Homo sapiens: one gene and its partners. The protein of the gene in region 1 interacts with the protein of each later gene in a biochemical or structural test. Each region holds a gene or a part of one and is shown in the gene's direction. Other genes may lie near its edges. The genes, in order: NEIL1, HUS1, XRCC1 and LIG3.

Region 1 (8,199 bases):
AGCTGTGATCATACCTCTGCACTCCAGCCTGGATAACAGAGCTGAGACCCTGTCTCAAAAAAAAAAAAAAAAAAAAAAAAAAAATGTATATATACACACATTGGAATATTTTTCAGCCCTTAAAAAGCAGAAGGTTCTGTCATTTGTGACTTGGATGAACCTAGACGACATGATGCTAAGTGAAATAAGCCAGGCACAGAGAGACAAATACCTCGTCACCTCACTTATGCCTGGAGTTGAAAAAAGGGCCTGGGGCAGTGGCTCACGCCTGTAATCCCAGCACTTTGGGAAGCCAAGGTGGGAGGATCACTTAAGCCCAGGAGTTCGAGACCAGGCTGGGCAACATGGCAAACCTGTCTCTACAAAAAGTAAAAAAATTAGCCGGGTGCAGTGGCACATGCCTGTGGTTCCAGCACTTGGGAGGTTGAGGTGGGAGGATTGCTTGAGCCAGGGCGGTCAAGGCTGCAGTGAACCATGATAGTGCCCCTGCACTCCAGCCTGGGTGACAGTGAGACCCTGTCTCAAAAAAAAAAAGTTAAATTCATAGAAGTCGACAGTAGAATGGTGGTTAGCAGAGGCTGGAGGAGAGAGAGGGTGGGTTGTGGGGAAAAGGGGAGACACCGGTCAAAAGGTACAAAGTTCCAGTTAGGAGGAGTACATTCTGGTGATTTATTGCCCAGCGTGGTGACCAGTTAATAATGATGTATACTTCAAAATAGCTAAAAGAGGGTTTTAAATGTTCTCATCACAAAGAAATAAATATTTGAGGTAATGGATATCCTAATTAGCCTGATTTGATCTTTTTTTGTGTTTTTTGTTTTCTTGAGACAGAGTCTCACTCTGTTGCCTAGGCTGGAGTGCAGTGGCGTGATCTTGGCTCACTGCAACCTCCGCCTCCCGAGTTCAAGTGATTCTCCTGCCTCAGCCTCTGTAGTAGCTGGGACTACAGGCATGCACCACCACCCCTGGCTAATTTTTTGTATTTTTTGTAGAGACTGGGTTTCACTATGTTGGCCAGGCTGGTTTTAAACTTCTGACCTCAGGTGATCCGTCTGCCTCGGCCTCCCACAGTGCTGGGATTACAGGCATGAGCCACCGTGCCCAGCCGATTTGATCATTCCACAATATATGCATGTAACAAAACATCACACTGTACTCCATAAATTTATACAATTATTATTTGTCAATTAAAAATAAAACTATAGATAAGTCAAACTGGTATTCTAAAAAATGCTCCACCAGCCACAGTTGGGCAAGAAGAAGCAAAAATGAAAACTGGGAATAAACAAAGTGATAAAAAAATCACAAGGAGACTATCCTTGGCAACATGGCAAAACCCCATCTCTACAAAAAAATACAAAAATTAGGTGTGGTGGTATGCACCATTGTCCCAGCTACTCAGGAGGCTGACGTTGGAGGATCACCTGAGCTCAGGAGTTCGAGGTTGCAGTGAACCATGATCATACCACTGCACTCCAGCCTTGAGTGACAGAGTGAGATCCTGTCTCAAAAAAAATAAAAAAGAGGTTATCCTGTCTTTTTAGTCAGGATAACCAAATAGCCCTGGTCAATGAGGTAAAGCTATACTTGACAGATGGATTCTATCAAATATATTAAGAATGACAATTAGAAAATCACTTTGAGGCTGGACACGGTGGCTCACGCCTGTAATCCCAATACTCTGGGAGGCCAAGGCAGGTGGATCGCTTGAGGTCAGGAGTTTGAGACTAGTCTTGGCAACGTGGTAAAACCCTGTCTCTACTAAAAATACAAAAAATTAGGCATGGTGGCCCCCACCTGTAATCCCAGCTACTGGGAGGTCGAGGCTGCAGTGAGCCGAGATTGCACCATCGTTCTCTAGCCTGGGCAACAGAGTGAGACCTGTCTCAAAAACAACAATAAAAACCTAAAACTTTATTTTCTTTTGAGACAGGATCTCAAAGCGAACTTTCGTATTTTTAGTAAAGACGGGGTTTCACCATGTTGGCCAGGCTGGTCTTGAACTCCTGGCCTCAAGTGATTCACTCCCCCCTCGGCCTCCCATAGTGTTGGGATTTCAGGCATCAGCCACTGCGCCTGGCCAAAAACCCAAAACTTTATATTCATTGAATAGCAACTACCCATTTCCTCCTTCCCGGCAGCTCCTGGCAACCACCATTCTACTTGCTGCTTCTGTGTGTTTAACTGTTTAGGTACCTGATATAAGTGGAACCATGAAGTATTTGTCTTTCTGGGGTTTTTTTGCTTGTTTGTTTTATGAGACAGAGTCTCGCTCTGTTGCCAGGCTGGAGTGCAGTGGCACGATCTCAGCTCACTGCAACCTCTGCCTCCTGGGTGCAAGCAATTCTCCTGCCTCAGCCTCCCAAGTAGCTGGGACTACAGGTGCCCGCCACCACACCTGGATAATTTTTGTATTTTTATTAGAGACGGGGTTTCACCATGTTGGCCAGGATGATCTCGATCTCCTGACCTCGTGATCCACCCGCCTTGGCCTCCCAAAGTGTCGGGATTATAAGCGTGAGCCACTGTGTCCAGCCTAAGTATTTGTCCTTCTGTGACCAACTTATTTAGTGCAATGTCTTCGAGGTTACCCATGTTGTTGCATGTGGCAGTATTTCCTTTTTTTAAAGGCTGAATAATATTCCATCATATACCACATTTTTTTTAGGGGGGCAGGGATGGGGATAAGGTTTCACTCTGTCATCCAGGCTAGAGTGCAGCAGCATGATCACAGTTCACTGTAGCCTCTGACTCCCAGGCTCAAGCAGTCCTCCAACCACAGCCTCTGGAGTAGCTGGGACTACAGATGCATACCACTATGCTAATTCTTTTCTTATATAGAGATGGAATCTCCCTATGTTGACCAGGCTGGTCTTGAACTCGTGGGCTCAAGCAGTCCTCCTGTCTTGGCCTCCCAAAGGGCTGAGATTACATGCATGAGCCACCATGCCCAGCCTATTATATATCACATTTTAAAAAATCCATGTATCGGTTGGTTGTTTCCACATCTTGGGAATAATGCTTCAATGTGTGTTATCTCTTCATTGGGGTGGCAGTTACATGACTATGTGTTTGTCAAATATTGCAGTCTGAAAGGGGTAAATTTTACTATATGTAAATTATACCTTTATTTAAACAAGAGAACAACAAAGAAATTACTCCATAGATTATTTGGTGTTCACAAGGTATGAACCATATGTTTTCTAATGCAGAGGTCTGGCTGCCACAGCCCCTGTCTTGATCAGTTTCAGCTCCCAATAAAGTGGGACAATGAGATATTGGGTGCCTCCTGATATGATGCAATTCAAAGTACAGAGCAGTGGCCAGGCGTAGTGGCTTATCCCTGTAATCCCAGCACTTTGGGAGGCCGAGGCAGGCAGATCACCTGAGGTCAGGAGTTTGAGACCAGCCTGGCCAACATGGTGAAACCCCGTCTCTACTAAAAATACAAAAATCAGCTGGGAGTGGTGGCATATGCCTGTAGTCTCAGCTACTCAGGAGGCTGAGGCAAGAGAATCACTTGAACCTGGGAGGCAGAGGTTGCAGTGAGCCAAGATCGTGCCACTGCACTCCAGTCTGGGTGACAGAGCAAGACTCCATCTCAAATAAAACAAAACAAAACAAAAAACAACGAAGTACAGAGCAGCACCTAGGAAGTATCCCTGAATATTTATATAATCAAGCCTTTAGATCTAATTCCCAGCATGCAGGATGAACCACAGATAGAGGACCAATCTCTGTGACAATATCAGTGACACCCTGAGGATACATTCAGACAAATTGAGAATGTGATGCAGCATCTATCTCAAACAACAACTGGCTGAGACTCTTCAGAAAGGTATCATGAAGATAAAAGAAGGGGATGAAGTGGGTGGGAGAGGGAAGGTGGTTTCATCTAGATTTAAAATTATTAAAAAGATATAATCCAGCCAGGCGCGGTGGCTCACGCCTGTAATCCCAACACTTTGGGACCCCGAGGTCGGGGGATGGCTTGAGCCCAGGAGTTTGAGGCTGGCCCAGGCAACATAGTGAGACCACATCCTTACAAAACATGAATTAGCCAGGCGTGGTGGTGTGTGCCTGTAGTCCCAGCTACTTGGGAGGCTGAGGCTGAGGATCACTTGAGCCCGGGAGGTCGGAGGCTGCAATGACCCATGATTGTAGCCTGGGGGACAGAGTGAGACCCTGTCTATATGTGTATATATATATATATTTGGGACAATTGGGGAAATCTGGATGTGGACTAGCTATTAGATGATATTAAGAAGTTACTGTTGGCTGGGCATGGTGGCTCACTTCTGTAATCCCAGCACTTTGGGAGGCCGAGGCGGGCAGATTACTTGAGGTCAGGAGTTCAAGACCAGCCTGGCCAACAAGGCGAAACCTCATCTCTACTAAAAATATGAAAATTAGCCAGGCATGTGGCACACGCCTGTAATCCCAGTTACTCGGGAGGCTGAGGCAGGAGAATCACTTGAACCCGGGAAGTGGAGGCTGCAGTGAGCCGAGATTTCACCACCGCACTCCAGCCTGGGTGACACAGTGAGACCCTGTCTCAAAAAAAGAAGTTACTGTTAACTAATTTCTAATAACTTAGATATTATTAGATATTGTCAACTAATATCAAGTTGTTAATTCTATTCATTTATTATGGCAGAAGTATTTTAAAGTAAATTAGACAAATCATGACATTTCATACCCAATACTTTAACATGCATCTCTAAAAACCAATTTCTTACAAAGCCACATAATTTTATTACGCCTAATAAGGAGACGTAGCAGGGTAGTGTGAAGGAGGGGAAATCGTGGCGATGGGTTAGGTATACACTTAGAATGAAGTGCAGACTCCACACGGAGGCCCTCCCGAGGCCCAACCGGACCTGACCTGGGTTTGCTTCTCTGTCTTCACCTGCCAGCACTAACCCGCAGCTATACTCCAGCCACACAGGACTTCTTTGAGTTCTTTCAGTGACCAATCTCTTTCTCGCCTCAGGGCCTTTGTACTGGCGGTTCCTTCCGCCGGACACGTCGGGTTTCCTCGTTTTTGCGGACTGGCGCTTTCTGATTTCAGAGACTCTCCGCAACAGAACCATCTCAAGTGGGTCTACCTCCTCGCCTTTTTTTGTTGTTGTTGTTGCTTGGCTGCGCTTCTGACAGGGCAGGCCGTGATGATGTTTGTTTATGAGTTAGGTCTGACTGTTCGTTGGTGCTTAAGATCCCCACCGGGTCCCTAGGGCCTGTGCGTACCGCGCACCTGTGCACGTCCTGCGCGCAGCTGCAGGCGACTCCGCTCTGGCTCGTCGCTGCTGTTTCCTGCTGGGGGTGCCGACCCTGTCCCACGCTAGCTGGGTGACTTCCCCCAACCGCAGAGACAGCGGCGACCCGGGGCCTCAGACCTGCCCCCGCATCTCGCCGGCGCCAGGCAGTGGGAAGTCAGGTTCTTCCGCCACCTCCCAGCCAGGTAACTGCCCCGAAGCCTGCCCCAAAGCCTGGAACCCCCCAAGCTCGGGGACCCCACCCCGAAGAATCGCGACCGCTTCCCTGAGGGACTACACCTCCCAGCGGCTCCCAGCGCGCTCCCGGGCACCGCCCGTTCTGGCGTTAACCCTTTAGTGGCTGCAGTGGCGACGAGCGGAACGGAGTGCGGGTTCCCGGGGAGGGGGCGTGCAGGATCGGGTTGTGGGGGGTGCGCTGTAGGGCTAAGGAGAAGATGAGCTTTGGGGGGCCCTGAGGAGGAGGGGAGTCAGGATTAACCGAGGACAGGGTCGCAGCGGGGGCATGGGGAGGACGGGCCCGAGAGCGCCGCTCCTCCCCAAAACTAGGATTTGGAGCCTCACGTTCTCCCGCAAAACGAGCCCTGTGGGTGCCAGGCCAGGGGCGGCTCCCAGGTGTGGAGGGGGCAAGGTACGGGCGTCTGCCGTCGCTAAGTGCCCCCTTCCACTTAAGGCACACCTTCGCCTCCGATTCCGAACCGCCCGGGGACAGAGGCAAGTGGCAAAGCAGGGAGGGCGGAGGTGAGGAGTCGATACCCCCCACCCCAGGGACCAGGCGCTGCCGCGGGCCCTTTCCCTCCCCCAGGCCCGGGGCAGGAGCTCGGGGAGCCCTTCCTGGTGCCCGCCGTCCTCCTGCGGAGCCATGGGGAGCGGCTCCAGCGCATGGCGGCAGCCCGCCCGCCTCGTCCTGGCCCCTGCCCTGACCCGGGGGCGGCCGCGGGGATGTCCGGTCCGTGGGGCAGGCCCGGTTCTCGCTGCGGCCAAGCGGCCGATTCGGCCGCTCCCGCCGCTCCCCCGCGCCAGGCCGAGCTTCGCTCTTTCCCTCGGTGGTGAGCGGCCAGATCCAGGCGGGTCCTAAGTGTGGGGGGAGGGGGGCGCAGGGAGGGGCGGCCACGCGATCCTAAGACCCTTTCAGATGGTGGGAGAGCCTGGAGAAAGAGACAGCGTGTGCGGAGGGGGTGCTCCCTCAGATGGGGGGTCAGGAAGTCTCCCTCAAGTGTCTGGGACAGAGGGACAGCAGGGGCCAAGGCGGAGATGAGATCCGTGAGTGAGGGGAGCCGGGAAGAAGTAAGGCTGCAGCCGCGGCCCCGCAAGGATTGGGACTTTCGTCTAAACGCGGTGGAAGCCCATGGAAGGAAGCGGTTAGCAGCAAGGCAGAGTCCTGCTCCCTCTGCAGCCCCAGCTCCCAGCGCCCTGGGCTTTCCAGGCACCTGTCCGGGTAGGGGATTGAGGGCCGTGGCCAGGCCCGCACTTTCCTGCCAGCCGCAGCTGGCCACATGCCCATCTGACCCTCCGAGTTCTCCTCTAAAAATGGGGCTGACAGCCGCTACCTCACAAAGTCCACACCGGGCTCAACCCGCTGCCTTCCTCCCCAACAGGACTCTGCCACCCTCCCTCAGGATGCCTGAGGGCCCCGAGCTGCACCTGGCCAGCCAGTTTGTGAATGAGGCCTGCAGGGCGCTGGTGTTCGGCGGCTGCGTGGAGAAGTCCTCTGTCAGCCGCAACCCTGAGGTGCCCTTTGAGAGCAGTGCCTACCGCATCTCAGCTTCAGCCCGCGGCAAGGAGCTGCGCCTGATACTGAGCCCTCTGCCTGGGGCCCAGCCCCAACAGGAGCCACTGGCCCTGGTCTTCCGCTTCGGCATGTCCGGCTCTTTTCAGCTGGTGCCCCGCGAGGAGCTGCCACGCCATGCCCACCTGCGCTTTTACACGGCCCCGCCTGGCCCCCGGCTCGCCCTATGTTTCGTGGACATCCGCCGGTTCGGCCGCTGGGACCTTGGGGGAAAGTGGCAGCCGGGCCGCGGGCCCTGTGTCTTGCAGGAGTACCAGCAGTTCAGGTAGGGCCAGCACCAGGTGTGATGAACATAGTCGCGGGCTCCACACCTGACTCTCTTAGTGCCTTCTTGGCCAACAAGGGGCGAGTCCCTGCCCCTTCTGGGCCTCAGTTCTCTCATCTGCAGATCAAGACAGTATACCTGTCCTGGGTCAGCTCCCTGAGCCAGTGGGCATGGAAACTCAAAACTAATTGGGGGCCGGGTGTGGTGGCTCAAGTCTGTAAATCCCAGCACTTTGGGAAGCCGAGGCGGGCAGATCACGAGGTCAGGAGTTCGAGACCAGCCTGGCCAGTATGGTGAAACCCTGTCTCTACTGAAAATACAAAAATTAGCCGGGCATGGTGGCACATGCCTGTAACCCCAGCTACTTGGGAGGCTGAGGCAGGAAAAGCGCTTGAGCCGGTGAGGCCGGGGTTGCAGTGAGCTGAGACAGCACCATTCCACTCCAGTCTGGGCAACAGAGCACGACTCTGTCTCAAAAAATAATGATAATAATAACTGATGGGGGAGGAGAGAGGAGAGCCAAGAGGAGGATGGGTAGGTACTGCCCTGAGGACATGTGGCCAGTTAGTGTCAGAGAAGCTGGGGCTCCCACCCACAATCCCACACCACCTCTCAGGGCTCCCAGGAGGCTAAGAAGGTGGAGGGGCTTTAATATGGTAAGTGAGGCTGAGCGGAATTGTTTCAAGGGGATGGGGAGGGGACTATCTCATGACATGGCTTCCGCCTTGGGCTTTGTGGTCTCCCACATCCGGCCTGCCCAGTATTCTGTGTCCTGTGGTCTCCTCTGCGCCACTTCCCTGCCTGCAGTAGGGTGTAACAGCCCCACCTGGGATGTGATGCAGGTCACCTCACATGGCACAGTGTTGGCCACT
Region 2 (7,146 bases), on another chromosome or scaffold:
CTCCTGCTGTGAGGGAGTTCTCATCAGCTCCACCCAGCCCTCCCTAGAGCCCTGCCCTTGTGCTGCTGTAGTCTCCTGGCAAGTCCTCTCGGAGTTCCACCTGTTTTCACATCTTCACTGAGTTCTTCATTCCGGGAGGCAGGCAGGGGGACTTCCCCTTTGAGATTTTTGGGAGATTTCTGAGTTCTTGGCTCTTGGGCCTTATCTTCTCACTTTCCCTGATAGCACGGGGGTCTCAGTGTGCTCTGAGGTGTTTTGAGGTTTTGTAGGGTACTTTGTCATCTGGTTGTGTGAAAGCTGTTGCCCATGGAGTTTTTTTCCTTTTGGCTTCCTTTTCTAAGACTATGTAAAATACTCAATTTGCAGGTTATTGAAGCAAACCTAGATGGAGAATTGAATTTGAAAATAGAAACTGAATTAGTATGTGTTACAACTCATTTTAAAGATCTTGGAAATCCTCCATTAGGTAAGTTTTCTAGTGGGTTATATTTTGCTTTGGATAAGTTAATTGTTTCAGATAACCTACCTGTTGAGGTCTCTTCATGTAAAAAGGTTGAAATTCAGTTGACTTTGTTTCATGCTTGGGTGAAGAACAAAGGAATTGAGACTGGACTATGTATCCCTGTGGTGTAGTGGGGCAGTTAGCCACCAGGGGGAGAAGCTGTGCCACCAAGTAGCTGACAGATCTGTGCAGGGTCTCCATCCTCTGTAGAATTCGGATCAAGTTACATAACCTCCAAGATCCCTTCCAGCTATTCAATTCCTGTCCTACTCCTAAAGATTTCTATTTCTCACCTGGCATGGATTCAGAAAGGTAGATACATTTGTTCTTATATTCTCCTCCTTCAGTTACTTCCATATGTATGAAATTAGTGTAGCAGATGCAAAACTGTTTCACTTGATCACATTTCTTATCTCATACAAGGTAATAAGGGACGATAGAGTCAGTTCAGCAAGTGGGGAGAGAGGGGACGGTTGGACAGTTTGGTGAGTTATAAGCCAAGAGGGGGTTAGAATCATGGCTGGAAAGTGGCAGCTGCACAGTAGCAGGGGCTGCCTGAGCAGGAAAGCAGGTAAAGGACCAGGGGAGAAACACCTGGGGATGATGAGAAAATCATTTTATGATACATAAGTGTGCCAGAACCAATAAAATCGGCCCTAGTCACATTTAAGTTACTACGAGTCTGCTTGAATATAAACACAGATTTTAGCATAGAGTTGGAAGGAATTTTTACTTTCTAGTTAAGAGCATCCTGCTCCAGCAGAGTGAAATCCATACGGTTATGCCTTTGATAATATTGTGTAAAGCGATTCATTCTGATGTCACTCATTTTGTTTCTTTTAATAAACATAAGGTGGGACTTATCTTTGGTACTTTCTCAGAGGTAGAAAGGATGTTTTCTTTTTTTTTTTAATTCCACTCCAGAATGACAGGCCTTGTATTAGTTAATGTATATATTTTCACTCTTAAAATACATAGTAAGTACAAATAAATAAAATTTTCTTTGACCTGAAGAGGGAGATTGAGTTATATTTCAAGTCCCCTGTAAATAAAGATGCCTTGGAAATTATCATAGTATTTTAAATAGTTAGGACCTAATGCTTAATGAATGACAACATTTACAAGTTGCAATATTTCTTCAGGATGCTAAAATCAGTGCTAAAGTGAATCATTTATTTAAGTAAAATGCATTGAGTATCTCCAGGTTTCCTGTTACGTGGGAAGATGTTGTATTTAAATGCATTCCTATCATTTTAGCCTCTGAAAGCACCCATGAGGACAGAAACGTGGAACACATGGCTGAAGTGCACATAGATATTAGGAAGCTCCTACAGTTTCTTGCTGGACAACAAGTAAATCCCACAAAGGCCTTATGCAGTGAGTGTGCTTCTCTGTTTTGTTTTTCATATTCTTTCATATTCTAAATACTGCAGTCAACTCTAGTCTAACAGATTGCATATAGTCTCATAAATCCAAAAAAAAAAAAAAAAGCTCAATTATGTGGACTTTAACTTCCTAGAACAGTGGGGTTTTTTAAATTTTCCTAGATTCAGAAGTACCTAAGGTGGCAGCAGAGAAACAACCCCTGGGCACTCTGTTAGGGCCTGAAACCTGCAGCCACACTGGTTGGTAGGTGGGTTGTGTGCTGCCTCAGTTGGCCAGCACACCTGGAGATGCCATCGGGAGAATGGGTGCAGATCATCCCACCTTCTCCATGGTCATCTAATTTGACCTGCTCAGAGTGCCAGACACGGTTTGGCTTGGATTTAAGTTTTCCCTTGTGATGTCTTGTTTCCTTTCTGTGGCTATGCTGGCCTGCATTCGCTGCCCCATATCTGTCCCTTGGCTGCTGGTTGTTAACAGTTGCCTCTTGATTCTGGCTGGGCCCCATCTTGTGAGGTCACACACCTGCTCCAGCACTCTTCATCTACTGACCACACATGAGAAAGGCATTACCTGCCAAGAGCTTTTCAAGGCATTTTTGTCACCTTACTACTGAAATCACAGCAACCTAAAAGCGACTGCATCCTGGATTTGAAGTTCCACGTTTTGTAGCATAGCTCCCAGGCTGAGCTGAGAGGGAGGTTGAGCCAACACTGCACCTCATCCCCTTCAGATCTGCAGTGTGCTGTAGAGAAGGAACAGAAGATTCTAGGTGGCAATGTCAAGGACCAGCCCTTTTGAATGAGAGACATGAAGAGAATCAGAAGAGACCATGGGAGGGGCAATGGGTGTTTGGGAATTGGGGAAGGTGTCACACAGTTGGAGTGATGGGCACAGAAGGAGATATCGCCAGAGAAGCAGCTCTGAGGGTAGAGATGGAGAAGCTAGACTAGGCCAGATCATGGGGAGTTTTGGGGTGAGGTACCTGTGCTGCATTTTAAGGAACTTTGACATGGACGATGTCATATTTCTAGGGCTGAGCATAGTGGGAGCTGTGTGGCAGTGCAGGGTCCTTAAAGGTGCTTCTGAGAACCTCGATGTGCATGGAGATCGCCTGAAGGTCATGTAAAGGGACTCCTTATTCATAGTTTGGGCTGGGCCTCATGGCTGCACTTCTCCCAAGCTCCTGTACAATGCCCAGACCCTTGGTCCTGACAAGCACAGTGTGAATGGTGAGAGAGTGAAATACCCCTCCTGTCTGCAGAGTGTGGAAACACAGGGTGTGGGGGGCCCCTGCGCTGCACAACATCAGTCTTTGAACTTGGTATTTTGGGGACTTTCTGAATCCAAGGCTGTTGAGGAACATGGAAGAGTTCTTATCAAAGGTGGTTGACTAAGCCAAGTGTCTTCCCAACATTCACTTTGGTGTCTCCACGTGTAGCAGAGAAAGGAAGACCAGCAAATTGTGATGTAGCAAAAATTTTTTTTAAAACACCGTGGGTTGAACTTCTCATACCTTCTTAACTTCCCAAAGCCCCTTTTCTGTCTCTGTTAGTCTCCTTCAGGTGTCGGCTCAATTGTCCCCTCCTCTAGCTAGGTCCTGCCACCCTCAGTCTCTGCCTCTCCTGTGCCCTTGCACCACCTCTCCTAAAGAATGTTTGTCTCCTGCTTGTCCTTTCTGGTCCTTTCCCCAACCTCCCATCTCCTGGGATTGGCCTCTCTGCAGCCTGCTCACACATGGTTTCTTGTCACTCACTCATATCTGCTGGAGAGCTTTCCTCGGCTGCTGTGCTGCAGCTCCCCGAGCTCTCGGTGGTTGTCACACTGTGTGCTCCTGCCCACCCTCATGTGCTCTTTACTTCCCTGCTTGGTTGCATGCCTGATGCCTTGGATTTTAGCCATCACCCATGGCCCTCACGGGATTGGCAGGACCGTTGAGATGCAGGGATCCATCCCATGTAGCAGTGTGTGACACAGCCTGCCCCAGGTGTTGGGGGATCCTGGCTCTTGGCTCTTCTCAGCACAGTTCCTCCACTCACTGGTGAGGAGCTGCTCTTCGCTGCAGAAGGATGCTCATGTGGGTGAATGTGGTTTGCCAGGAAGCCAGCCTGCTGGGTGTTTTGCCAAGGGCTTGGGCCGCTTCACTTTTCCTCTCCTCGCACAGGGAGCCGCCAGTGCTGGGGCCGTGATGTAGCCTCAGCTGTGGCAGTGAGAGTGAGAGACTGTGGTCTCTGCAGCTGCCTCAGGGAAGACAGATGCCTAAAACAGGAGGTGCAGGCTGGGAAGGCTGTTCTGAAAAAGTAGAGATCAAAATGTGTGTGCTGCACTAGGTCTCTAAAATCATGGCTTTTCTCTTCCCAGATATTGTGAATAACAAGATGGTGCATTTTGATCTGCTTCATGAAGACGTGTCCCTTCAGTATTTCATCCCTGCGCTGTCCTAGCACCCTGTCGCTGGAGTTGGCATGCAGAGACTTTGTCAGGATGGGAGAGGCCGCAGGTGTTGTGTTCTGATCACTGGTCTGTGCCCTCACAGCACCGCACATCGACACACTGTACTTATTTGTCCCTCTCTAACATTTTAACTAAAAGTTGATTCAACAACACACAGTTGGATAAACATATCACTTCATGTTGCTCATGTCTGTTTTGCTTTGTTTTTAAGACACTGAAAAGAAAAGCTAGAATTTATTTATTCAGACTTTAAAGAACAATTTCTCATTGATGTTGTGAAAATCGTCATGTATTTAGACTTGGTGTAGTAGCCAGAATTCGTAAAGCTGTTGCCTGGGAGCTTGGTACTTTCCCTCCAGGCAGAGGCTCTAGCTCAGCACGGCCTGTAGCGCACAGTCAGTCTTGCATTTCAGTGTGTTCACCCCGCTGCTCCTGCCCCTTGGAGCCCAGTGACAGAAAGAACAGCCTCTGTCACCCCGCCGCCACTGCCTTGGTTACTCAGAGCACTGTGGGGTGTCACAGCTGCAGCATTTGGAGTCTCTCTCTTGCTGAGGACTCAAGCCCACCTGAGTCCACTCCCCTCTTGATGCCTAGAGAGCTGGCCCAGCCAACACAGCTCTTAGCTGGGAGCTCCTTCTGCCATTCCAACTAGTTTCTTCCTGGGGCCAGTTTTGGGTTTAGGTTGTAATTCCTTATATTTCTTTCTTCCACAGTGTATCGGATCTGTCGTTCTGGAAAGAAGACCCTTCTATTTAGAGTAGAAACAAACGAAACTTCTAAGGTATCATCTGTGTTAAGTGATGAGACCATATTTCTTTGATGTTTCTGAACATCAAAGCTGATTCAGTACTGGTAGATGTGCTCATTCTCCCTGAAACATACCCATCATATTTCCTATTATAATTACATCTCATTGTCCTGTGGAGGTGGACATGATAAACATTATCTTTTGTTTTCTTGTTTTGTTTTGTTTGAGACGGTCTCATTCTGTCACCCAGACTGGAGTGCAGTGCCACAATCATGGCTCACCGCATTGACCTCCTTGGCTCAAGGCATCCTCCCACCTCAGCTTCCTGACTAGCTGGGACTACTGGTGTGCACCACCACACCCAGCTAATTTTCAATTTTTCATAGAGACAGGGTCTCACTGTGTTGTCCAGGCTGGTCTTGAACTCCTGGGCTCAAGCCACCCGCCCACCTGGGCCTCCCAAAGTGCTGGGATTACAGGCATCAGCCATCACACCCATCCATAAACATTATATTAATGTCACATTACAAAACTGAGACCTAAGTTGCTTAGGATAAAATGAAATTGGAAGACTAGCTAACATGAAAATTTATATTTTGGCTTTTTCATGTTTTTTGATAAAACCAGTGTATTTGAATGATTCTTTTGATGTTTAGTAATGGTTTTTTGTTTGTTTTTTGGTTTTTTTTTTTGAGACGGAGTCTCACTCTGTCGCCAGTCTGGAGTGCTAGTGGCGCGATCTTGGCTTACTGCAGCCTCCACTTCCCAAGTTCAAGCGATTCTCCTGCCTCAGCCTCCCGAGTAGCTGGGACTACAGGCGCATGCCACCACGCCCGGCTAATTTTTGTATTTTTAGTAGAGACGGAGTTTCACTGTGTTGGCCAGGATGGTCTCGATCTCGACCTCGTGATCACCCACCTTGGCCTCTCAAAGTGCTGGGATTACAGGCGTGAGCCACCACGCCTGGCCTATGTTTAATAATGTTGAAATAGGATGGAATATTTTGTTAAATTAACATTTTAAAATTAGAAGACACCGTTTTAATTTTTAAACCCTTCCTCCTCTCATTGTAACGAAATTAATTCCAGCTGCAGTGAGAAAACTTAAAAATCATGATACAAAATGAAACAATATCTGAAAGTAGTTTTATAAAACTGAAATTGCTGTTAAAGAGAATGTGTTAGTGACTTAACCATTTGCTCTATGTGATGTTTATTATCAAATACATATAATTTTGAAGATTTTAATGAATGGCTTAAGATTTTATCTTTGTGTAGAATGTGGCTAAAGAAACCTTAGTTGAGATTCAAGAAGTTGGTGTCTGTTTCTGATTCTTATCACAACTTGCTACTTAGTGTCTACCAAGTCCTCCACCTCTTTGCTCCTCAAAGAGCTGTGAAAAATGATGGCAGGAGCCGGTACAACACCACAGACTTAGAGAAGGGCACAGTGCTGCTTTATTGAATGATCTACCAAGGTAAAATTTTGCCGGGTCAAGAAATAGCAATTTAATCCATTTAAAGGAATGAATATAATTTGAAACATTAACTTATTTCAAGACTAACATCTCAAAGTGTTGAGACCTTTTTTAAAAGAGCTTTCTGGATTTTGAGCATACTTTCACTGGCTGTGATTTATAAGAATTTGTGGTTTGTGGAGTACTGTCCTAAATGCCAGGGTAAAATAAGGCAGTCCCATGCCTTACCTGCCCTGGGCTCAGGGCCTCACATCCTTTTGGTACGCACATCTTTTCTCTTCTCCCTTGTTCTGCTCTCCCGCAGCATATACCTCCTAGCCCCAGGCAATTACTTGTCTAATATCTATCTCTATATATTTGCCTATTCTGGCTTTTAGCTTTTTTTTTTTTTTTCCTGAGGGAGACAGGGTCTGGCTTTGTCCCCCATGCTGGAGTGCAGTGGTACAGTCATGGCTCACTGCAGTCTCAAACTCCTGGGCTTAAGCAGTCCTCCTGCCTCACCCTCCCAAGTAGCTGGAACTACAGGTGTGTGCCACTGCGCCCAGCTAATTTTTATATTGTTTTGTAGATATGAGGTTTTGT
Region 3 (7,526 bases), on another chromosome or scaffold:
TTTTTTTTCTGTAGAGATGGATCTCTTTTTGTTGTCCAGGCTGGTCTCAAACTCCTGGGCTCAAACGATCCTCCCACCTCAACCTCCCAAAGTGCTGGGATTACAGGCGTGAACCACCGTGCCCGGCCTCCCTTTCATTTTACTCATCCACATCTCCCCCTCCCTGTCTCTGCTTCTCCTCTTTACGATGATTTGCTCAGCCAGGCACGGTAGCTCATGCCTGTAATCCCAGCACTTTGGGAGGTCGAGGCGGGAGAATCACTTGAGGTCAGGAGTTAGAGACCAGCCTGGCCAACATGGCGAAACCCCGTCTCTACTAAAAAATACAAAAATTAGCCAGGTGTGGTGGCACGCACCTGTAATTCCAGCTACTCGGGAGGCTGAGGCAGGAGAATCGCTTGAACCTGGGAAGTGGAGGTTGCAGTGAGCAGAGATCGCGCCATTGCACTCCATCCTGGGTGACAGAGCGAGACTCTGTCTCAAAAAAGAAAAAAAATGATTTGCTCCATACTTCAAGGTTATCATCCATCTCCTGTTTGGGGTGATCCCTTTTCTGTCTCTTCCACCACTCCAACACTCCACCATCATCTCTCCTCCCTCGGTCAGGAATGACCTCTTCCCTGATTACACTTACACTTTCCCACCCCAGCCCAGCCTCTTCCTTCTCTATCCACTCCCCACCATTTCCACCTCCTGCCAGTTAGATTCTTCCCCTCTCACTATTTCTCTGCCCCCCACAGTGTCTTTCCTTACCCCTCTTCTGCCTAAGAAAGTCTATTAACTCTCACCCCTCCCACATTTTCCTTCTCTTTAGGACAGTGTCATTTTCAGAATTCTGTGACAATAATGATTTCTATCACACCACTTATTTCTGTTCCCTCCATCTCATGATGGTCTTTCCCTCTTTCCTGCTCTCCACTGATTTCTTCCCACGCTCCCGTCTTGAGAACCATGATGATCCCCCCTCAGCATGGTAGTCTCTTCCACCCTGAAGGTACACCCCACCTCCCCACCAGGTCCCAGGCCACATCCTCTTACTTGAAGTAGCCTTCCCGACCAGGAGCACACATGTGTCCTTGTCACTGCTGCAGGTCTTCATTTGGCCATGGCACCTGCTCCCCGCCGCCGTACATATTTCGCAGTGTAGTGGGCACCCTGCAGTGTAGACAGAGGGCGAGGCTGTAGTCATGGGTGGTGTGGTCTTCGGACCACGACTTTGACTTAGGACTTTTGTGTCCTGAGAGAGGAGGGACCAGCAGCTCCCTGGTTTTTCATGGGCGGGATGTTGACCACTGCCCAAGGAACTGTCCAGAGTTGGACGAAGAAGCAGTGGTGATGCCAGCAAAGCTGCTTCCAGGGGCGGGAAGCGACTCCACCATGAAGCCTGTTTGCCTAATTACATGGCTGGGGATTTTGGATGCCAGGGTCCGCTGAGAAAGCTCAGGGGCAGGGAGGGGTCGTGATGGAGGTTTCCATGGACTTTTGTGAAACTTCAGGTCCAGCTGGTTCTTGAATGTGGGATTCTCCTCCTTGAAGGTGCCATGTAGGTCTTGTAGACAGCAGGAGCTCAGGCAGGGGGCCCTGAGGCTAGGGTCTGCATCCCAGGTCAAGGAGGGAGAGTGAGGACCAGGAGGGCAGAGGACTTGAACTTCTTGGTTCTGAGAGAGGGGACAGCTAGGGGCCCAGAAACCTGGGTCCTGGGGAAAGTGAGGCTTACTTGGACTCCTGTGTGCAGGGGAGGAGGGGGCTGGGGCCTGAACTTCTTAGTCTAAGGAGAAAGGAAATCTCTCTACCTCTTTTAAAAAAATATATCATATGATATTAATGTATTTTTTTTGAGATGGAGTTTTGCTCTGTCACCCAGGCTGGGGAGTGCAGTGGCACGATCTTGGCTCACTGCAACCTTTGCCTCCCAGTTTCAAGCAATCCTCTCACCTCAGCCTCCCAAGTAGCTAGGATTACAGGCGCCCACCACCAAGCTCAGCTAACTTTTTTTGTATTTTTAGTAAAGACGGGGTTTCACCATGTTGGCCAGGCTGGTCTTGAACTCCTGACCTCAAGTGATCCACCTGCCTCGGCCTCTTAAAGTGCTGGGGTTACAGGCATGAGCCACCGCACCTGGCCTTCTCCCTCTTTTTTTTTTTTTAATTATATTTTTAAAGATTTCCCTTTCCAGCCATGCTCTCATCTGATTTCCTAGAATTGAGATGTGTTTGGGATCCTTCCTGGAGGATGGAGGATTCAGAGCCCACCAAGCCCCTCTCTCAGGGATCCAATCACAGGAGCTTTTCTTCTCTGGGACCCCCAGGCTTTCTCTTCCTTTACCCTTGGCCTCTTCCATGAATCTGAATTTCCAGAATGCCTCCCCGTTCACCTTGAGGACTTGCTGAAGGCTCTTTCTCTCTCTATATCTCTCTCTCTCTCAATCTGGGACCTCTCTCTTCCTGAGGTCCCAGAGACAGTTCAGGTCCCTTGTCACTTACCAAGACCCAGGAGGGTGCAGAGCAACACAAAGGCCAGCAGAAAGGTCTCTGGTCTCCTGGAGAGCCTCATGGTGTGTGTATCAGCAGTACCTGGTCCCCAGCTTTTATAGGAAGCTGAGGAGGGGTGGGTCTGGACCCACATTCACCCTACGGGGAGAAATAGCTGAGGTCAGAACCCAGGGCAGTCCTCTGTGGCCTCCGGGTTGGGAAGGCAGAACCAGAATCCAAAAGTGACCTGGGCATCTTGTGCCCAGCCCCCCACCTCCATGGAGACCCCAGGAGTCTGGGCTTCCATCCCCCTCTTCTATTAGAACCCAGAAAGTCACCACCCTGTTTTCTCACCTTCCCACGGCCCATTGTTGTTTGTTTGTTTGCTTGAAGACCAAGACGGAGTTGGGCCTCTTGATTCCCAGTGGCTGCAAGAACTGGGATTCCCTCTCCTTCTCTCTCTTCCCCTCTCCTCCCAAGGAAGCACCCAGTGTGGGTAGGGCCCCACCTTGGAGCACCCAGCATGTCCAGGCTGGTCCTGCGGGTGCGGGGTGCCTTGTCTCCCTTCCCCTCTCTTCATGTGCTCGGCTCACACTCCTTGTGTGTTTGGGCTGTCTCCAGCTGCGACCCCACCCAGGGCTGCACCCTTGGGTCTCCAAGGCACCGAATGAACAGAGGGATGTCTGTCGGCAGTCATAGGCGGGCGTAGTAAAAGACAGATGCCCACAGTCCACATATTGGGAAACTGAGGCTTTTGTGGAAGAACTCCAGGATAGGGGTGTGTGTGTGTGTGTGTGGTGGGGGTTGGGCACATGCTTTGTGTTATATTTAGGACGCAGAACCCTTCTCTTTTGGCCTCAGGCATAAGGCTGAAAGAGATCTGCTAATTTTTTTCGCGCGTGCGCGCGCGCGTATGTATGTATATGTGCGTGTGTGTGTGTGTGGCAAGGGGACAGAGAGAAGAGTGCAGCCGCCTGAGCCATTTGAAGAGATCCTGTTGCGTAGAATCCAGGTTCCCTACGAAACTACGAAAATTCACTCAGATTTGCTGTCCTAGCCCAGCGCAGTCGCTCACGCCTGTAGTTCCAGCACTTTGAGAGGCCGAGGCAGGTGGATCGCTTGAGCTGAGGAGTTCGAGACCAGTCTGGGCAACATGGCAAGACCCGCCGCCCTCTCACCCCATGTCTCCACAAAAAATACAAAAATTAGCCGAATGTGGTGGCGCGTGCGTGTAATCCCAGCTACTTAGGAGGCTGAAGTGGGAGGATCCCTTGGCCCCAGGAGACAGGGGTTGCAGAAAGCCGAGATCGTGCCACTGCACTCCATCCTGGGTGAGAGAGCAAGACCCTGTCTCAACAAAAAATTTTTAAAAAATAAAATAAATAATAATACAGCAAAAAGATTTGCTTTCTCGGCTTCAGTGTGGGCGGTAACTCCATCGTGCAATGAGAAAGGCGAATTTCTTCCAGACACCAATCCCGGAGGTCGCTTCTGTTGCTAGGCTCCCAGAAAGCAGGGTTCGGACGTCATTGGGAGGCGAGGCTAGAGCGGGGTTGTGTGTGGCGGAGGGAGGCGGGGCTGGAGGAAACGCTCGTTGCTAAGGAACGCAGCGCTCTTCCCGCTCTGGAGAGGCGCGACTGGGCTTGCGCAGTGTCGACGCCGGCGCCGGCGCGCCGGGGTTTGAAAGGCCCGAGCCTCGCGCGCTTGCGCACTTTAGCCAGCGCAGGGCGCACCCCGCCCCCTCCCACTCTCCCTGCCCCTCGGACCCCATACTCTACCTCATCCTTCTGGCCAGGCGAAGCCCACGACGTTGACATGCCGGAGATCCGCCTCCGCCATGTCGTGTCCTGCAGCAGCCAGGACTCGGTGAGGGACCTGCATGGGGGAGGTTGGAAGACGTGAGGGAATTAATGAGGATAGCTCTTAAAAGAGCTTTTGGGGTTCTCTTGGAAGTCTAAGGAGAGTCATGGGGGGATTTCCAGGAGGCTAAAAGTGAATTGTGGAGAGATGTTGAATTAGGGACGTTCCGGCGTCTAGGGAACTTCCGGAGAGAAAAGGAGGAATAGGGAAGCTTTCTTGGAGAGCCCATAGGTGAACTTCCACGGGAAAGTGTTGTAGGGGAAACTCCAGGCAGAGTGTCGGGGGATTAACGGGAGAGCTTAAATCTGGGGGTCGTAGAGGCCTTGGGAGGACTCAAAGGAATCATCTGAGAGCTGGAGGCCTAGCTGTCATCTCTGTGCCCTAATTCTCCTCTCCCACTGTTGTTTCCAGACTCACTGTGCAGAAAATCTTCTCAAGGCAGACACTTACCGAAAATGGCGGGCAGCCAAGGCAGGCGAGAAGACCATCTCTGTGGTCCTACAGGTGATCCTGCCACCCCACCTCCTCCTCACTAGGAGTCTGGAGTCCGGGGTTCCAGATTCTGCTCCTGAGCCAACTGGCAGTGGGTTTAGTCACTTTCTTTGCTGGGCCTCAGCTTCCTTACTCGGAAAATGGGCAGCATAATCCCTGTGCCCCTCAGCAGAGAGGAAAGGAGACCCAAGGATTAAGTCCAGGATGACCACAGGAATCAGTGTGTGGTCCTGGGCAGGTGGCATCTACTTTCTGGGTTCCAGTTTCCTCAGCTGGAACAAAATGAATCATTGCCACGTACTCTGCCTCCTGCAGCCAGTGGGCTCAGGGCTGGAAGGTGTCCAGGAAGGTCGTCTAAGCCAATCAACTCCACTTTAAAGAAGGGGAAACTGGCCGGATGCCGTGGCTCATGCCTGTAAACCCAGCACTTTCAGAGCCTGAGATGGGAGGATTGCTTGAGCTCAGGAGTTCCAGACCAGCCTGGGCAACATATCAAGACCCTGTCTCTATTTTTATTAAAATAAATAATTTTTTTTAAAGAATAATAGCCAGGTATGGTGGTTCACACCTGTAATCCCATCACTTTGGGAGGCCGAAGCTGGAGTATTGCATGAGCCCAGGAGTTTGAGACCAGCCTGGGCAATACAGTAAGATGTCATCTCTACCAAAATTTTATAGATTAGCTGAGTATGGTGGTGTGCACCTGCAATCCCAGCTACTGGCGAGTCTGAGGTGAGAGAATTGCTTGAGCCCAGGAGATGGAGGCTGCAGTGAGCTGAGATTGTGCCACTGCACTCCAGCCTGGGCACCAGAGTGAGACCCCCAAAATATAAAAAATAAAATAATAATAATGAGAGCTGGCATTATTCAACGTTACCTGTCAGTCGCTGCTCTACACACCTCACTCACATGGATTAGCTCATTGAGTCCTCATAAAAAACCCCAAGAGGCAGGCTCTGTTATCCCCACTTTTACAGATGAGGAAACTGAGGCCCAAAGAAGTTATACAATTTGCCTGACAGTCAATCTTTTATTTATCTGTTGAGACAGAGTCTCACTCTGTTCCCAGGCTGTAGTGCAGTGGCATGATCTTGGCTTGGCTCACTGCAGCCTCTACCTCCTGGGCTCAAGCGATCCTCCCACCTCAGCCTCCTGAGTAGCTGGGACTGCAGGTGTGCACCACCATGCCTGGCTAGTTTTTTTTGTATTTTTTTAGAGATGGGGTTTCCACCATGTTGCCAGGCTGGTCTCAAACTCCTGGGCTCAAGCGTTCCTCCTGCTTCAGCCTCCCAAAGTGCTCGGATGACAGGCATGAACCATTGTTCCTGGCCTGGGGGCTGCTTTATGACTATAAGGAGCAGAACACTCTGTGGATAGTGCTAGGGTGACGGAAAAATTAACCTTTTGTGAATGGGCAGTCATTCAGCAAATATCCACTCCTCTCCCTCCCACTGGAGGGGGAGTATATTTCCCTGCTCCATTGATGAGTTTGACCATATGATTTACTTAATGGAATTTCAGCACATCTAACTTCAGCAAGGGCCTTAAATGCACTTGGCTTTTGTGCTCCCATAATATGCCATGAGAACATTTGCCAGGTTACTGCTAATCCCAGAAAACTGTGGAATCTCATGGAAGAGACCTGAATCCTCCCAAACTGCAGCCAAAGCAGCCATCCCACAAATTCTTATAAGAATGCTTGTTGGTATAAGTCTCAGTTTTCATGTTGGGAGGTCGAGGTGGGTGAATCGCTTGAACCCAGGAGTTTGAGACCAGCCTGGGTAACATGGGGAAACCCTATCTCTACGAAAAATTATAAAAAATAGCTGGGCTTGGTGGCGTATGCCTGTAGTCCCAGCTACCAGGGAGGCTGAGCGGGGAGGATTGATTGAGCCCATAAGGTTGAAGCTGCAGTGAACTGTGATGGTTTCACTGCACTCCGGCCTGTGAGACAGAGTGAGACTGTATCTCAAAAAAAAAAAAAAAAAAAAAAAGAAAAGATCTCAGTTTTAGGATGATTTGTTACACAGCATTATTACAGTGTAAGTTAATACAACTTGGTTGTTTTAAACCACTGAGATTAGGGACTCCTTTGTTACTGTAACATCATCTGGTCCACCCCAATTGATGTCAGTGTTTAGTGCCTGTCAACTAATGGCCTCCACTTCCCAGGTTCAAATGATTCTCATGCCTCAGCCTTCTGAGTAGTTGGAATTTACATGCCTGGCTAATTTTTGTATTTATAATAGAGACCGAGTTTTGCCATGTTGGCTAGGCTGGTCTTGAACTCCTGACCTCAGGAGTTCAAGGCAAATGAGCACCAAATGCTAATTTAAGTGATCCACCCACCTTGGCCTCCCAAAATGTTGGGATTACAGGCATGAGCCACTGCACCTGACCTCAGTCTTTTAAACTGTGATAGATACAGATTGCTGACAGTTTTAGTCTTGAGATCTAGATTCAAGCCCCCAGCTCTTCCTCTTAATCGGTGACCTCAAGAAAATTGTTTCATTTCTCTAACCTGTTTTCTCATGTGTCCATTGGGAATAATGACATCCAAGCCCGGAGTTGTGAAAATTCGGTGACATAATGTCTGCACAAGTGCTCTGTCAACATGTAGGTGTTTGTGTAGAGGGAGGGATTTGTGTTTTTATTACTTAGTGGGTGATGATTCCACTGGGCTCTCTTATGATCAAGTGACTC
Region 4 (6,050 bases), on another chromosome or scaffold:
CTGTCTTCCCTCTCCCTCAGGCCATACTCTCCTTTACCATACTACTGGACTGGACTCAGGCTGGAGGCAGATAGACACAGTATAGGGGGAATGGGCTTGCTTCTCCCAAACCCACCAGTTCTCCACTGTCTCTTCTGGACCAGGAATTAGTTGCTGTGGGTGCCACAGCTGAAGTCAGTTTGTCTTGCTGGTTTAAATAGATCTTTCAGAGCTGGGTGCTGGGTTTGCCATCTTTTTGTTTTCTTTGAAAAGCAGCTTAGTTACCCTTTTTATAAATAAAATATCTTGCAGTTATCTTTGTCCTTTCCCCACCTACACCCCCAATAATTTCCCTAGAGATTAAGGAGTAAAGGCTGGGCTATGGCAGCTCTGTCCACAAAGCCTTCTCTCCCATCCTTGCCTGTTCCTTTGTACTTCCAGGCTCATTTTAAAGTTGTATTTAAAGGACTGCCCTCGGAAATGCTTCTGTTTAGCGGAACTTGTATTCAGCCTGACACGCTTTGCCAGGAACAAACCTCATGTGAAAGAAAACAAAATGAATTTTTTTACTTTCTTCTCTGTGTTCTCCTATTACATGGTGAGGATCCCCAGTTTGAAGGGAGGGGACTAGGGTCAGGTAGGAAAATGGGGCCTTTATGAAGAAAGGGGAGGTTATTTGGGCCACTCCTCTGGAGGGATAGAGGGCTCCAGGAAGATCTGCATCCCCAAAACCTGGAAACAAGACTGTTCTTTAAGAATAAAAATCCACATGGGGCTTGAGGCCAAGAACAGCCCTTGTTGCCACCAACATGGAGACTTTGTACCATATCCCATTCTTAGTGCTCGAGTGTTCCAACCTGAAGTTGAAGAAGCCACCCTGGCTGCACATGCCATCAGCCATGACTGTGTATGCTCTGGTGGTGGTGTCTTACTTCCTCATGACTGGAGGAATAATTATATGATATTGTTGAACCCCCAAGTATTGGCTGATGAACGTGGGCATCAGAGGCCAGTAGCTTTCTTGGCCTACAAAGTAAATGGACAGTATATTATGGAAGGATTTGCATCCAGCTTCCTGTTTACAATGGGAGGTTTAGGTTTCATAATGCTGGACCAGTCGAATGCACCAAATATCCCAAAACTCAATCGATTTTTTTTCTTCTATTCATTGGATTCGTCTGTGTCCTACTGAGTTTTTTCATGGCTGGAGTATTCATGTGAATGAAACTGCCGGGCTATCTGATGGGTTAGAGCGCCTTTAAGAAGAAATCAGTGGATACTGGATTTGCTCCTGTCAATGAAGTTCTAAAGGCTGTACCAATCCTCCAATATGAAATGTGGGAAAGAATGAAGAGCAGCAGTAAAAGAAATACCTAGCGAAAAAAACAGGAAGCATATTGAAGCTCGGACTAGAATTTCTTCTTGGTATCAGAGAGACAAGTTTATCACAGTATTTTTTTTTTTCCTGCTGACCTATTGATAATACCAACAATGTTGAGTGGCATTTTCTTCTTAGTTTTTAATTTCTTAAAGAAAATATACTCCATATCTGCAGGGAAAAAAATAAAAATCCACACCTGAGAACAGATCCATACAACCTGCTTACAAAGAACAGCTCCTGTGCTACCTGAGGCTGATTTATTTGAAGAACAAAAGGAAGAGAGACAATTTAGTGTAGACAAGTGCTATTCAATAGAACTTTTTGCAGCAGTGGAAATATCCATAAATCTGCAGTATCCAACCAAACTAGCCACAGACAGCTGCTGAGCAATTGAAATGAAGCTGGCACAACTAAGGAACTGAAGTTCTTATTTTAATTCAACTTCAAATGGTCACATGTCACTAGTGACTACCACACTGGACAGTGCAGGTGTAGACGGAGTTCAGATCAGACTCCTGAAACTTAATGGCTCTAACCTTAGGCAAGTTACGTTAACATCTAAGCCTCAATCCCTCCAAGTAGAATGGGTGCACCTAAATCATAGGGTTGTCCTGTTGTCCTGAGCAACATTATGTAAAGCACTTAGCCCAGAGCCTAGCACATAGTTATCTAGAGTTGGGAACGTCACTCCTGGTGTGCATGTCCAGACCCTACCCGGGAGAAGGGCCTAACCTATGACTTTAGAACCCTCAGTTGCAGGTGTGCATGTTCCAGCCAACACTCCACTCTGAGTGCAGGCTCATCAGGACACCATATGGTTGTAAACTGGCTGCCATGTCCCAATCCTTCCAGCTCTTGAGGGTCAGTTCTCACCTTATGAACAAATTAACAGGCTCTGGACCTATAAGATCAAGGACCACTGCGCCCCCTGGCCACCCCACCGCCCCCCCCCAACTTTGATCTGATTGACTTTGGCTTCCACCTACTGTTTAAAATGTGTATGTTGGGGGAGTAGGGACAGCACGGGGGAGGGGTTTACTTTCCTGACTCTAGCCCAGGACATTTGGTGTTTTTGAATAGGCACCATTCAGCCTTGCTTCAGTATTAGGAATAAGATACTTTTTATTCCATCCTCTATGGAGACAAAAAGCTGCTCCTCCTTTGAGTACTGACCTACATAGATTTCCATTTCTCTCTTCAGCCTCAGGCCAAACAAACAACCGGACAGGGCAGCAGAACAAGGCTGTCTCCTCAGGATCCTGCCAAAGGCACTGTCCTCTCCAACCTGGACCCAGCCCCACTTGCCCTTATTGGTTGCTTACACCCAGAGTGCACACTCACAGGAAAGGGCCTCTGCTGGCTGCAGGTGATCATCTTGTCCCTTCTCTGCCTTAGTGTGTGTTATTGCCATTTCAATGTCAGTGGTTTTTTATGTATTTTCTTCCAGTCTTTGCTGCTGAGATCTGACTGTATATACTATTTTGTATCCTTTCATGTATTTCTTTCATGTATTTCAATGCAGCCCTCAACATCATCATCATAAATCTCTCCAGCAGAATGCTGGAGGCCTCCCTCTTCTGAACCTCTACATGCTGCTGGCTGGCATCAAGCAGAGGTCATCACTGGGTGCTGAACAGGTCAGCTCCCTAGGGCAATGTGAGCAAAGTGTTGTGGCTCATCCTCGATCCTTTATGCCCTTTTGGCAAGATTCCTTTCTCTTCTCAGTCACAGCAGATGGACACATAATCTTGTTCTCCCAGGGGCTGCATTCTCAGTAGTCTTTTCCCTGCTCCTTGGGCGCCTGGTCAGGGAGGTTTGTACAAGCCTGCGCACACACAGCAGTCTGTCACGAGGCTGGGCCAACCTTTTTTTTTTTTTTAAACAGACTCTTGCTCTGTCATTCAGGCTGGAGTGCAGTGGTGCAATCTCAGCTCACTGCAACCTCTGCTTCCCGGGTTCACAAGCAATTCTCATGCCTCAGCCTCCCAAGTGGCTAAGACTTAACAAACAGGCACACACCATCACTCGCAGCTAAGTTTTTGTATTTTTAGTAGAGACCACGTTTCGCCATGTTGTCCAGACTGGTCTCAAACTCCTGGCCTCGAGTCATCCACGCACCTCAGCCTCCCAAAGTGCTGGGATTACAGGCGTGAGCCATGGCGCCCAGCCTGGGCCAACCTTTTCTGAGCCATAGTCCAGCTGTACTACAGCTGTATCCAAAAGGTACCATGTATCTCCCAGGGTAACCTGAAGACCTAACTGGGCATACTAACTGTCCTCAGATTTCAGTTCTTTAAGGCCCATCTCTTCTAGATCAGTGTAAATATCTGAACTCACTTGGTGCTTCAACCCAATTGGTCTTGGGATTCATCCTTTACCTACCCAGCTCTCATTCTCTTCTAGGTTGTTCCATGGCCTCTTCCATATATTACATTTGTGGTCTTGAGCAAGTTAGTTAGTTACAACAACACTGAGCATCTTGACCAAGGTCACTTGGCCCAACCACAGGCTAATCCCAGGCCATGTGCACATCCCAGGATTAGCTTGTGGTTTATCAGTTGTCAATTTTTTTTTTTTTTTAATACAGGGTCTCACTCTGTCACCCTGGCTGGAGTGCGGTGGCGATCAGAGCTCACTGCAGCTTCAATCTCCTGGCTCAAGTGATCCTCCCACCTCAGCCTTCCAAGTAGTTGGGACTACCCACATGCACCACCATGCACGGCTAATTTTTTGGTTTTTTTGGGTTTTTTGTTTGTGTTTTTTTTTGTTTTGTTTTTTGAGACAGAGTCTCGCTCTTTCGCCCAGGCCGGACTGCAGTGGCGCAATCTTGGCTCACTGCAAGCTCCGCCTCCCGGGTTCACACCATTCTCCTGCCTCAGCCTCCCGAGTAGCTGGGACTACAGGCACCCGCCACCACGCCTGGCTAATTTTTTGTATTTTTAGTAGAGACGGGGTTTCACCGTGTTAGCCAGGGTGGTCTCGATCTCCTGACCTCGTGATCTGCCCGCCTCAGCCTCCCAAAGTGCTGGGATTACAGGCGTGAGCCACCGCACCCGGCCCTTGTTTGTTTTTTTAAGTAGAGACAAGGTCTCACTACATTGCCCAGGTTGGTCTCAAACTCCTGAGCTCAAGCAGTCTTCCCACCTTGGCCTCCTAAAGTGTGGAAATTATAGCATGAACCACTGTCAGGCTCTTTTGTCAGTCCTATCAACCTCTAACATCCTCGCACCAGACAGGACAGGTGTCTGTATTGAAACTTTATTACAAAATTATAAAGCAGAGCTCTGTAACAAAATAATACACATTTGGGTTTGCTTTAACCTCCAAGTAAGTCTGAGAAAATCTTAATAAAAGCCACTTGAAGTAACAATTCACATCCAAGAGATTTCCACAAATTTATACAATGTATATTGAGCACTAGTTCCTGTACAGCTTATTCTTATTAGTTTGGATCCAACTATTCCAATGTATTATGAACCAGTCAGCTATCTGTCTTTTGAAACAAGTCTTAACTGAAATCTCAGAGTAATCAGCAAAAGCTACGGAATAATTCTAAGAATTAGATGTTTCCATATCATTAAAACCAAGGATCCATGAGGGGCAGAAGGGAGGATTCAAAGATTTAAAAAAAATCAAATTTTAGACCTTGGTTAAATATTAACTGGAATGGGATCTTGGAACTCCCAACTTTAATTTGGTGTAATAAAAATGATGCAAAAAAAAAAAAAATCAGGGTTGTTTGACACCTTTTTTCCTAAAGGGAAACCTTCACCAAAAGGGGATAAAAGATTTAAAGGCAAAATGAGTAAACAACCTCAGTTTTAATTCTTACTGAGGTTACTAACCAGCTATCAGTATATTATTTTCGATTTGTGTCTAGGAGGGAAACTGAAGAGGAGGTAAGGCTTCAGCAGAGAAAGCAGGTTGTAAGTAGAGAGCCAGCTTCTGCCCTTAAGTTACTGCTAGATCTTAGCTGAATTGCACATACATAGACCTGTTTTACAGAGGAACTGAGTAGCTGAATGAATGATCCTTTGCTAATTGGTAGGCATTGTAAACTATAGTATTTACTGCCCATGACAAAAGTGGAAAGGGATGTCTTCATGAGCAAATCTGATTCCCCCAACTCCTGCAAAGGCTGTGGTTCAGAATCAAATCATCCAGGACTTTGTATAACATTGAGGTAAGTGGCCCAGTGTTCAGTTGACTAGTTTATGCAGTTATTTCATTCCTCCAAAGGGGTTTAGTGGTTGGTGATGGAAGAAAGCATAAATATGTCTGTACCAATGTAATAAGTCCCTTTAGAGGTTTCCCTCTGCCATCCAGAGTCATGATTGGTTCTAGTCTCAGATTTTTCAGCTGCATGGGAGGGGTAAGGGGTGGGAGGTGTCTGCCAAGGCGTTTAGGGTTTGCATAGTTCATCCATTGGTAATGGGAAAACACTCTGCTTTCCTGATCATGTGTTTTGTGCTTGGCCACGCTTCTGCAGCAAACTCTTAAGTCCTCCAGCTCCTCTAGGGGTGTAAAGACTGTGAGGGCTCAAATACATCACCTACTCATTGCATGGTCCTTCCTAAAGAGCCTAGAAAATGGTTTCTCCTGCTGGGTGTGGTGGCTCACGCCTGTAATCCCAGCACTTTGGGAAGCTGAGGCGGGCGGATCATAAGGTCAAGAGTTCAAGACCAGCCTG

Evidence for each region.
Region 2: the proteins of NEIL1 (region 1) and HUS1 form a complex in vitro, tested with the Homo sapiens proteins (one study listed by BioGRID).
Region 3: the proteins of NEIL1 (region 1) and XRCC1 form a complex in vitro, tested with the Homo sapiens proteins (one study listed by BioGRID).
Region 4: the proteins of NEIL1 (region 1) and LIG3 form a complex in vitro, tested with the Homo sapiens proteins (one study listed by BioGRID).

What each region holds. Positions count from the first base shown.
Region 1 is NC_000015.10:75,342,013-75,350,211, forward strand, and holds the start of NEIL1 (endonuclease 8-like 1), read left to right. Parts: upstream 1-5,026; 5' UTR 5,027-5,461; intron 5,462-5,606; exon of another isoform or gene 5,607-5,778; coding exon of another isoform or gene 5,779-6,014; intron 6,015-6,408; exon of another isoform or gene 6,409-6,634; intron 6,635-6,871; coding exon of another isoform or gene 6,872-6,893; coding exon 6,894-7,327; intron 7,328-8,199. UniProt on the Homo sapiens protein: Involved in base excision repair of DNA damaged by oxidation or by mutagenic agents. Acts as a DNA glycosylase that recognizes and removes damaged bases.
Region 2 is NC_000007.14:47,962,539-47,969,684, reverse strand, and holds the end of HUS1 (checkpoint protein HUS1), read left to right. Parts: intron 1-366; coding exon 367-466; intron 467-1,759; coding exon 1,760-1,879; intron 1,880-4,246; coding exon 4,247-4,329; 3' UTR 4,330-6,397; downstream 6,398-7,146. UniProt on the Homo sapiens protein: Component of the 9-1-1 cell-cycle checkpoint response complex that plays a major role in DNA repair. The 9-1-1 complex is recruited to DNA lesion upon damage by the RAD17-replication factor C (RFC) clamp loader complex.
Region 3 is NC_000019.10:43,572,219-43,579,744, reverse strand, and holds the start of XRCC1 (DNA repair protein XRCC1), read left to right. Parts: upstream 1-4,217; 5' UTR 4,218-4,286; coding exon 4,287-4,337; intron 4,338-4,742; coding exon 4,743-4,835; intron 4,836-7,526. Other genes in the region: PINLYP (phospholipase A2 inhibitor and Ly6/PLAUR domain-containing protein), read right to left, coding at 1,039-1,155, 2,484-2,625. UniProt on the Homo sapiens protein: Scaffold protein involved in DNA single-strand break repair by mediating the assembly of DNA break repair protein complexes. Negatively regulates ADP-ribosyltransferase activity of PARP1 during base-excision repair in order to prevent excessive PARP1 activity.
Region 4 is NC_000017.11:35,004,512-35,010,561, forward strand, and holds the end of LIG3 (DNA ligase 3 isoform alpha precursor), read left to right. Parts: 3' UTR 1-2,561; coding exon of another isoform or gene 2,562-2,903; 3' UTR 2,904-5,232; downstream 5,233-6,050. UniProt on the Homo sapiens protein: Isoform 3 functions as a heterodimer with DNA-repair protein XRCC1 in the nucleus and can correct defective DNA strand-break repair and sister chromatid exchange following treatment with ionizing radiation and alkylating agents.